2 linked regions of the Homo sapiens genome follow. The protein of the gene in region 2 purifies or fractionates together with the protein of the main gene of each other region. This does not show direct contact. Each region holds a gene or a part of one and is shown on either strand. Other genes may lie near its edges.

What was found. The genes of interacting proteins can lie anywhere in the genome.
Region 1: the proteins of UST (region 2) and SLC27A6 purify together in Homo sapiens (affinity purification with mass spectrometry; 3 studies listed by BioGRID and IntAct, with this or other methods). This does not show direct contact.

Annotation. Positions count from the first base shown.
Region 1 is NC_000005.10:128,963,564-128,967,309, reverse strand, and holds the start of SLC27A6 (long-chain fatty acid transport protein 6), read right to left. Parts: upstream 1,823-3,746; 5' UTR 1,173-1,822; coding exon 692-1,172; intron 1-691. UniProt on the Homo sapiens protein: Mediates the import of long-chain fatty acids (LCFA) into the cell by facilitating their transport at the plasma membrane.
Region 2 is NC_000006.12:148,744,726-148,748,471, reverse strand, and holds the start of UST (uronyl 2-sulfotransferase), read right to left. Parts: upstream 1,443-3,746; 5' UTR 1,042-1,442; coding exon 795-1,041; intron 1-794. UniProt on the Homo sapiens protein: Sulfotransferase that catalyzes the transfer of sulfate to the position 2 of uronyl residues in glycosaminoglycan chains. Has mainly activity toward iduronyl residues in dermatan sulfate, and weaker activity toward glucuronyl residues of chondroitin sulfate.

The DNA of each region.
Region 1 (3,746 bases), on a different chromosome or scaffold from region 2:
CCCCAGGCTTTTCTTTACAGTTCAGTGAAAATACGTGTAGCCTAAGATGTCCTAACTCCAAGGCAGGGGGAGGAGGAAGGGTAGAACTTAGTCAAAAAAAGAAAAGGATGCATGGAAGGATAAGAAGAAGAAACAGAAAGGCTCCTAGAGTCTGCCAAGAGCCCACGTTCTGGCTCACAGGTGGGAGCGCAACCTTGCTAGGCAAGTCCTAGCTTGCAGACAGTATAAAATAAGAGCAGACATGAAGAAAGGAATTCAGGTACCTTCCTTTAAACATATCTCTTCTGCAAATGTAGTCATCCCTGATAAAGTACAATTAGAGGTAGGTAGACGTGTCACAATGAAGTCAGATAACTTTCCTATTCACCATTTTGTCAGAGCTGATAAAATTTAGAAGTGACCAAGTTCTCTGTGTGTTCTTGCACTCACTGAAGGAACCAATAGCAGTAAAACTGTCCCTGTCTCAAAATGGTAGGAAGCAGAGATTTCATAAAAGTTTTCTGAAACTACGTGCCTGAAGGGAGGAGACAGTTGTTAAACCAGCATAGAATCATAAAACTATTTTGTACTCTTAACATGCACACTTCACTCACCCAAAATATTAGTTACGAATTATCCTAAAGAAAAAAAAAAGGGTATGAAAGCAGGTGGGCTGCCATTCTGTATAGGCAGACCACACCCCATACTCTACCTGCGCCCACCACTAGGGCTCTGGGCCCACAGGCGCGGATGCAATTCAGGAGGGAGTTGGAGCGAATGTTGGTGTTGAGAAAGGCCACCACGCAGCCCAGCTTGGCGAGGCCGAACCACACGTGAACGAAGTCCGGCTCATTGCTCATCAGCAGAGCCACCGTGTCCCCCTTTTTCAGAGAGGAATGGTTCAGGAAGACATGGGCCACTCTGCTGCTCCTTTTGTCTACATCCTGATAGGTGTAGATGTCTCCCTCATAGATGATGAAAGGTTTCCGAGGTTGTCTTTTGGCATGACTCAAGAATTTATCCAGCACAGTCACCAGCTCCCCTCTCTTTTCATACTTCTTCAGCCGAATTATAATGAGCACCACCTTCAACACGAACCAGAAGTCATCCCAAAAGTAAGGGAACAGGAGTTTCTGCAAGAAGTGCAGGACGACCATTCCAGCCCCTAGAACTGTTAGCCATGACAGAAGCATGGGGGCAACTGGGCCAGAAGACAGCTCTGATCTCAGCCCCCACCAGCGTCCTTCTCTTCCAGGCACAGCTCTCCACGGAGACCGCAGATCCTCACTACTCAGGGCTTACACCTGAAGTTCTTGTCAGCTTTTCCGGGGCGAAGCGGGATGGGGAGGAATCCTGAGAAACAGAATCGTAGGTTTGCACCGAAAAGGTCGCCCCAAGTGGTGCTGAAGATTAAGCTTGGGTCACTGGGCGGCTGGAAAGCAGGGAGCCTCCGACTCCTGCGAGAAACCAACACAGCCACCCTCAGGGGTCTTGGAATCTACAACCCCAGCGCTGCGCCCTCGCCTCCCAACCGCGACAGCGGCCCGTGCCCTGCGAGTTCCCCAGGACTTTCCAGACCTCTTCTCTGTGAGGGCTGAGTCAGTCCTCCCTGCTTCTGCGACCCTAAACAAACCTCACCACCCTCAGAAGAAGGTCCAGGGACAGAAGCTTTTCTCCTCTCAGGTAGTCTTTCCCGCGAGCTTGAGTTGGAGGCTGAATTCGAGCCGGGAAAAGCTGGGATGATGATGACTGAGAAGCGCAGCGATTTACAGTCTCTACGCACCAGAAACCGCGCAGGGGCTCAGCACCACGTCTCGGTCCGTGGCCTCAGGGCCAGCGGGTTCCAGGGTTCCTGAGCGCCGCCCCCGTCCTGCCCCGCCCAGCCCCGCCCAGTCCCTCTGACGCAACGGGTCCCGGAGAACTGCTCCTTGGTGACCCACGCGCCCGCTGGAAAGGGGTGCCCCTACCCCAGCCGCAGCTCGCACTCCGAGTGTCGTTAGGCTAGCCTAGTGTATTCTCCTCCGAAACATGGTGGGAGTGTTGCCTGCCCACCTTCGGCCTCCAGGCTCAGGGCTAACCACATCCCCTGGCGTGCCGCAGCCGGAACAGCCTGGGCCCCGCCGCCAGCTCCTCCCTGGGCGCGCGTCCGGCCACCTAGAGAAGTGTGGCGCGCCGACCTGCTCACACCCCAGGGAGGAGGCCCCGCGACTGGCGTCTCCGGCGGGGAAGAATGTGACAGTCCCGTGGGGGGAAACCCAGGGATCTGGAAGGCTTGGGGTCACAGGAGAACCAGAGTTGCTGGGATTGGGCGGCGCGGGGGCCCTGGCGAGGCTGATAAGGTATAACAGTGTCGCACAAAGGTCATCCATTGAACCAATTAATAACTAGAAAATGGAAAGAAAAGAACAAACATCAAAAAAACTGCAGGGAGAGAGAGGCAGGGAGGGAGGAAGAGAGGGCAGGAATATTTATGAACTGGACAGATCCAATAATATTTTGTAAGAAAGAAAGGAATATTTGGACACCACAAAATTGTACTGTTCTTTACAAAAAGTATTTTTGAAAACATGTTGATAGGTTGGTTTTTACATTTATATTAGAACTCTATCGTTAGAGAGCTAAGACAGTGCGTTTTACAAAATTTGGCAACAATATTGATTGATTTGAGAGCTTCAGTCGATATTCGTATTTAAAAATAAAAACAAAGTTTATAATGCTATTTGCAGTCCTTAAAAGTAACAAGATCCCCCCTCCCTGAGACAGATCATTTAAAGAATTATGTCTTCAAACTAAGGATTCTAAAGGGAGTGGGGAGGTGGAGTGGAGAAGTAACAAGTTAGTGGAATGGTTAATAAAATTTTATACGAAGATGAAATTTTACTAAAGATCAAAAAACTAAAGAACATTTCATTACACTTTTTTTTTTTAGCAGACACCATCATCCCAGCTGTCTGCTTTTAAGTGAGTATAAATGGTTAATTGCTTGTGTTAAAATAGTTAAGGAAGGCCTCACCTTGTTAGGTGTTTCTCCCTTCTGCCTCATGTTCTGCAGATGGATTCTGGCTAACCTCAGATTCTGTAATAAAAGAAAAACTGATAATTCCAAAGACGAGCTCCAGTTTATTAATCTGAAAATGATTACTTTGAAGTCACAGTGAAGAGCTCTTAAAGCCAAAGGAACATAGGCTCTTAAAGCCCTTTTCTGTAAATGACAAAAAAATGCTTTCTAAATTTACTCAGAAGCTTTGATCTTTTCGATTCAGAAATATCTTTTTAATTAAGAAAATAGTATCAAGTAGTTTATAACTTAAAACATTAGTTTACAACTTGAAAAGCATCTTTGACATTCTATTGTTTTCTCTTCTAGCTTTAGTCTAATTAAGTCACCTCCAAATAACAACATTTAACGAACACAAAAGAATATGGAGCAGTTGGTCTCAGACTTTTGTAGTTTTAATGAGTAAAATCTGTCCTTCTCCAGTGGAAAAAATAATACAGAAAGATAGGCGTGGCATTTCTTTTATTTTGCTGCACTTATTTTTCTTATCATGGACATTCTAATACCATCCTAAGGCATGGAACTAAATTTTTAGCAACTACAGATACAATGAATCTAGAATATATTCAGCACCATAAATGTGAGCTTGTTTGACTTATTAGGAAGAACTACAAGTAAGCATATGTTGGGCCAGACTTTGTACTAACCCAAACCAATTTTATGCCTGAAATCTCACCATGGAAGACATAATCAATGAAAAATCTTGGGA
Region 2 (3,746 bases):
GCCTCTCTCCTAATAAACCACACACACACACACACACACACACACACACACACACACACACACACACACACAAGTTTTGACTTGAGCTTGAGACGCACACAGCGCCGAGGATCCTCGGGTTACTGGGGGCGACACTGCTGGCCAGGCTGACCAGCGCCCTCGGGCATCCCCAAACCCCTGGATGCAACCCGTTCCCCGCGCCAGGCTAGCTGCGGGCGGCGGGGTGGGCAGCGGCAGCCAAGGGACAAGCCAGCCCGGGGACAGCGCGGAGCCACTAGGGCCGGCGGGCAGGCGGGGGATCTGCGGGACAGAATTCTCAGAGCGGACGGTGGCAAAGGGCTAAACCCACCCACACTCCCCGGGGCGCGGGACGGGACTGAACTGCGGTCACTAACAATGCAACGAAGAGGACCTTCCCTTCCCTTCGCCACTCCCCGCGCCGCCAGGCCTGAAGATACACACACTCCGGCACACCCCACACACCCATCCACTCCGCCCCAGTCCGGATCCGGGTGGCGGAGGTGGGGCGGGGGGAAGGTGAGCGGTGCCTCGCCCCGGGGTACCTGCCGGCAGCGCAACCCAGCGGCGCCCCCGCCTCGGTGAGGACAGTCGGACGCGCGGGAGGAAGAAGGCGCTCCCGACCGCGGCACAGATGCTCACGGGCTTAGCACCTGGAGAGACCCGGGGCGGCGGCGGCGCGCGGTGGCAGCGCGAGAAGTCCCCGCCGCGACCCTCTCCCCGCCGCACAACTTTGCGCTGTCGGCGCCGCCCTAGCGCCTGCCCAGCTTCCTTACCCAAGTACTGCCGCAGGTCGAGCAGGAAGCGAGGGGGTCCCCCGCTGAGCTGATAGAGGAGGGAGCCCAGGCAGAAGACCAGCAGGGTGGCCATGCAGAAGCCGTAGTCCCGGAGGGAGAAGCGCAGGAAAGGCAGCAGGGGCACCCGACGCTTCCAGCTGCCCAGGCCCGGAGGGGCGCCCCCCATAGGGGCCCCATGGGGCCAGGGATCCGCGCCGCCGCCGGGATGCTGCTGCTTCTTCTTCATCGCCTGCTCCGCTGCCTCCCACAGCCTGCCCGTGCCAGGAAAAGGTCACCCATCCGCCGCGAGGAGGAGAGCCCGGCTGGCCGGCTGCACATGGGGAGGGCCGCGCGGAGGGCAGCCGGGTGGGGGCGGGGAGGGGCCGAAGTTGCCGGGCTCAGGAGACTTTCTTCGGCATGGTCCCCGCCGCCGCGGCCCGAGCGGCCGAGGTGTCCGGCCCCGGTTCGGGGCGCTGCCCGTGACGGGGCGCCGCGCCCGTCCGGCGCCCGCTAGCGTCCCCACGCCCCGCGCCCCGCCGCGCCTCGGGCTCGCTTGCGGCCGCCGGGGCTCGCCTCCAGCGCCAGCGTGGACCCCCCGGCTTTGTGTCTGTAGGTCTCGGCGTGTTTTGTCCCGGTTCAGGCTTCTCTAAAAAACGGCAGGGAGGAACAGGAGGCGGACACCATCCCCTCGCTCCACCTCCTTGACAGGGGTTTTCCTCCTTCTCCTCCCCTTTCTCCCTCCGGCGCTCCGCAGCACTCTCCTCCCTCTCCCCTCCCTCTCCGCTCGGGTCTCGGGATTTCGCTCGGGTGTCACGTTACTGCTTCTGCTGGGGGCGGAGGGGGGGAGGCGGCGATTATTCGCAACAAGGAAGAAAGTTTCTGGGTGTTTTCTTTTTTTTTCCTTCCCCCGTTCTTTACAATCTGGATGCGGTTCCTGCGCCACCAGCGACCTCTTGGGGGCCCCGCTGACTTCCCTCTTGTAAACAGTCACCGGCAGGAAGAAGCACGACTGACTTTACTATTTACATTTTTTTCAGTTCAGAAAGTTGATTCTCCTTATATACCCCGTGCGAGCTGCTTACCCAAGGCTGATAAAAGGTACTAGAATACAGGCTCAAGACTTTGCTGAAATGGGAAAAGAGCAAGCGGTGCGAGTTATGGTCAAACACGCCCCAGAGGGCCAGGCGCAGCGCCTGAACTCCCGGGTAGGGTAGCCGAAGAGGACGCTCTGTTCTTGCTTTTCCTGGTCCTACAACTGCTCCACCTCGCAGTGCCCAGAGAGGCAAGTGGGGGGTGCATAGCGGACTCTAGGAGGTCATTGCCCTGCAGACATGAAGGGGAAAGAGCCCAGTCCGCCTATACGCTGATTTCATTGCTGCCTCTCTTCCCTCCACGGGAAAGCCTCTGGACCTGAAAGAACCTCCTGGGGCAGAAAAGGCTCAATCCTAGACATAGATCCTCTGATGGGGTGGTTGATCCACGGAAGGGCTGCTCTGATCAGCCACACTTTAAGTAAGAATACTATATCACTATTTATAGAAGCTGTAGCACCTGAGGGCTGTGTGACTCACCCGAGGTCCCAAAGCTAGTAGTAGGAGTTGGGTTGGGAGTTGCACTCAAATCTATTTGACCCTCAGACCCACTATACTAACCACTGCACAGCAGTACTTCCCAGCCAGAGCCCTTTTCCTTCACGTCCCATAGGAGGATGAGATTTAATTCATTTAGTTCAGGCCACATTGAGAAATGGAAACCTCAGTTTCTGGTGCCTATCATTTCTGGCTCCCTACTCATTTGTATATTCCAGTAATGAACAATTGGATTTAAGAAGGAACCAGGAGCCAAGAACCTCTATGATTCTAAGACTAGGCTCCTGAAAACCTTCATCAAGTTAGGCATCTGAAGAATATTCTGTGGAAAATTACAAAATATTATCCTAGACAAAGAACTTACTCGTTAAGAATATGTCTTAACCTCAGCTACTCAGGAGGCTGAGGCAGGAGAATCGTGTGAACCCGGGAGGCGGAGGTTGCAGTGAGTCGAGATCGCGCCATTGCACTCCAGCCTGGGCGACAGTGCGAGACACCGTCTCAAAAAAAAAAAAAAAGAAAGAAAAGAAAAGAAAGAAAGAAAGAATGAATATGTCTTAACCATGTTCATATATGAATGTCTCTGGTTCATGATTTGAAACATATATCATGAGCTAGAGAGATGTGTAGATGAGGTGACAGGTGCTGCACACACACAGAGACACACGTACACACACACAACTCTACTGTCCAATTTTACATTGTCCTAGCCCACTTTCTAAGGGATGAGAAGGCTGTTTTGGGGCCCCAAGAGAAAAGAAAATATTTTGTTCTGTGACAGAAAACCCTGAATAGAGTGTTAATCATTTGCTTTACATTTATCTCATGAATCAGGGTTTTATTTGGATTAATATGCACATTTTAGAAATGTGACTTCCCCTAAGAGAATTGAGTAGATCAGTCATTGCCCATTAATGTGAATTACTTTAATCAGTACAATGAGTAGCCCAGAACAGACTCCCAATTAATAACGTTTGAGCTTAAGAAGAGGGACTAGGAGACAGAAGGAGCAAAGCAGTGTTCATAATGTTTCAGGGACCGCCTTCCACAAACTGGACCTGTATCTGAGGCCTGGCCCTGTAATCTGAACACTCGCTGGATATAAAATAGTGTGCAAGACCCTCTGTGTTCACAAGTCCCACCCCCAGGAAGTTCAGAGACTTTTCTCACAGCATGCTGTGGGAAATACCCCAATTTTTTCTCCTAAGGAAAGGAATCTGAGGAACAGGGAGATGGAGCAGGAAGAAAGGAAACAAACATTTGAGAAAATAAGTAAATATGAGAATAAATGTTGTTTTAAAAAACGATGAAAAAGTTGCAAGGAAAGTACAAGGGGGCAAAGTCCAGCTTAGAAGAAACAAGC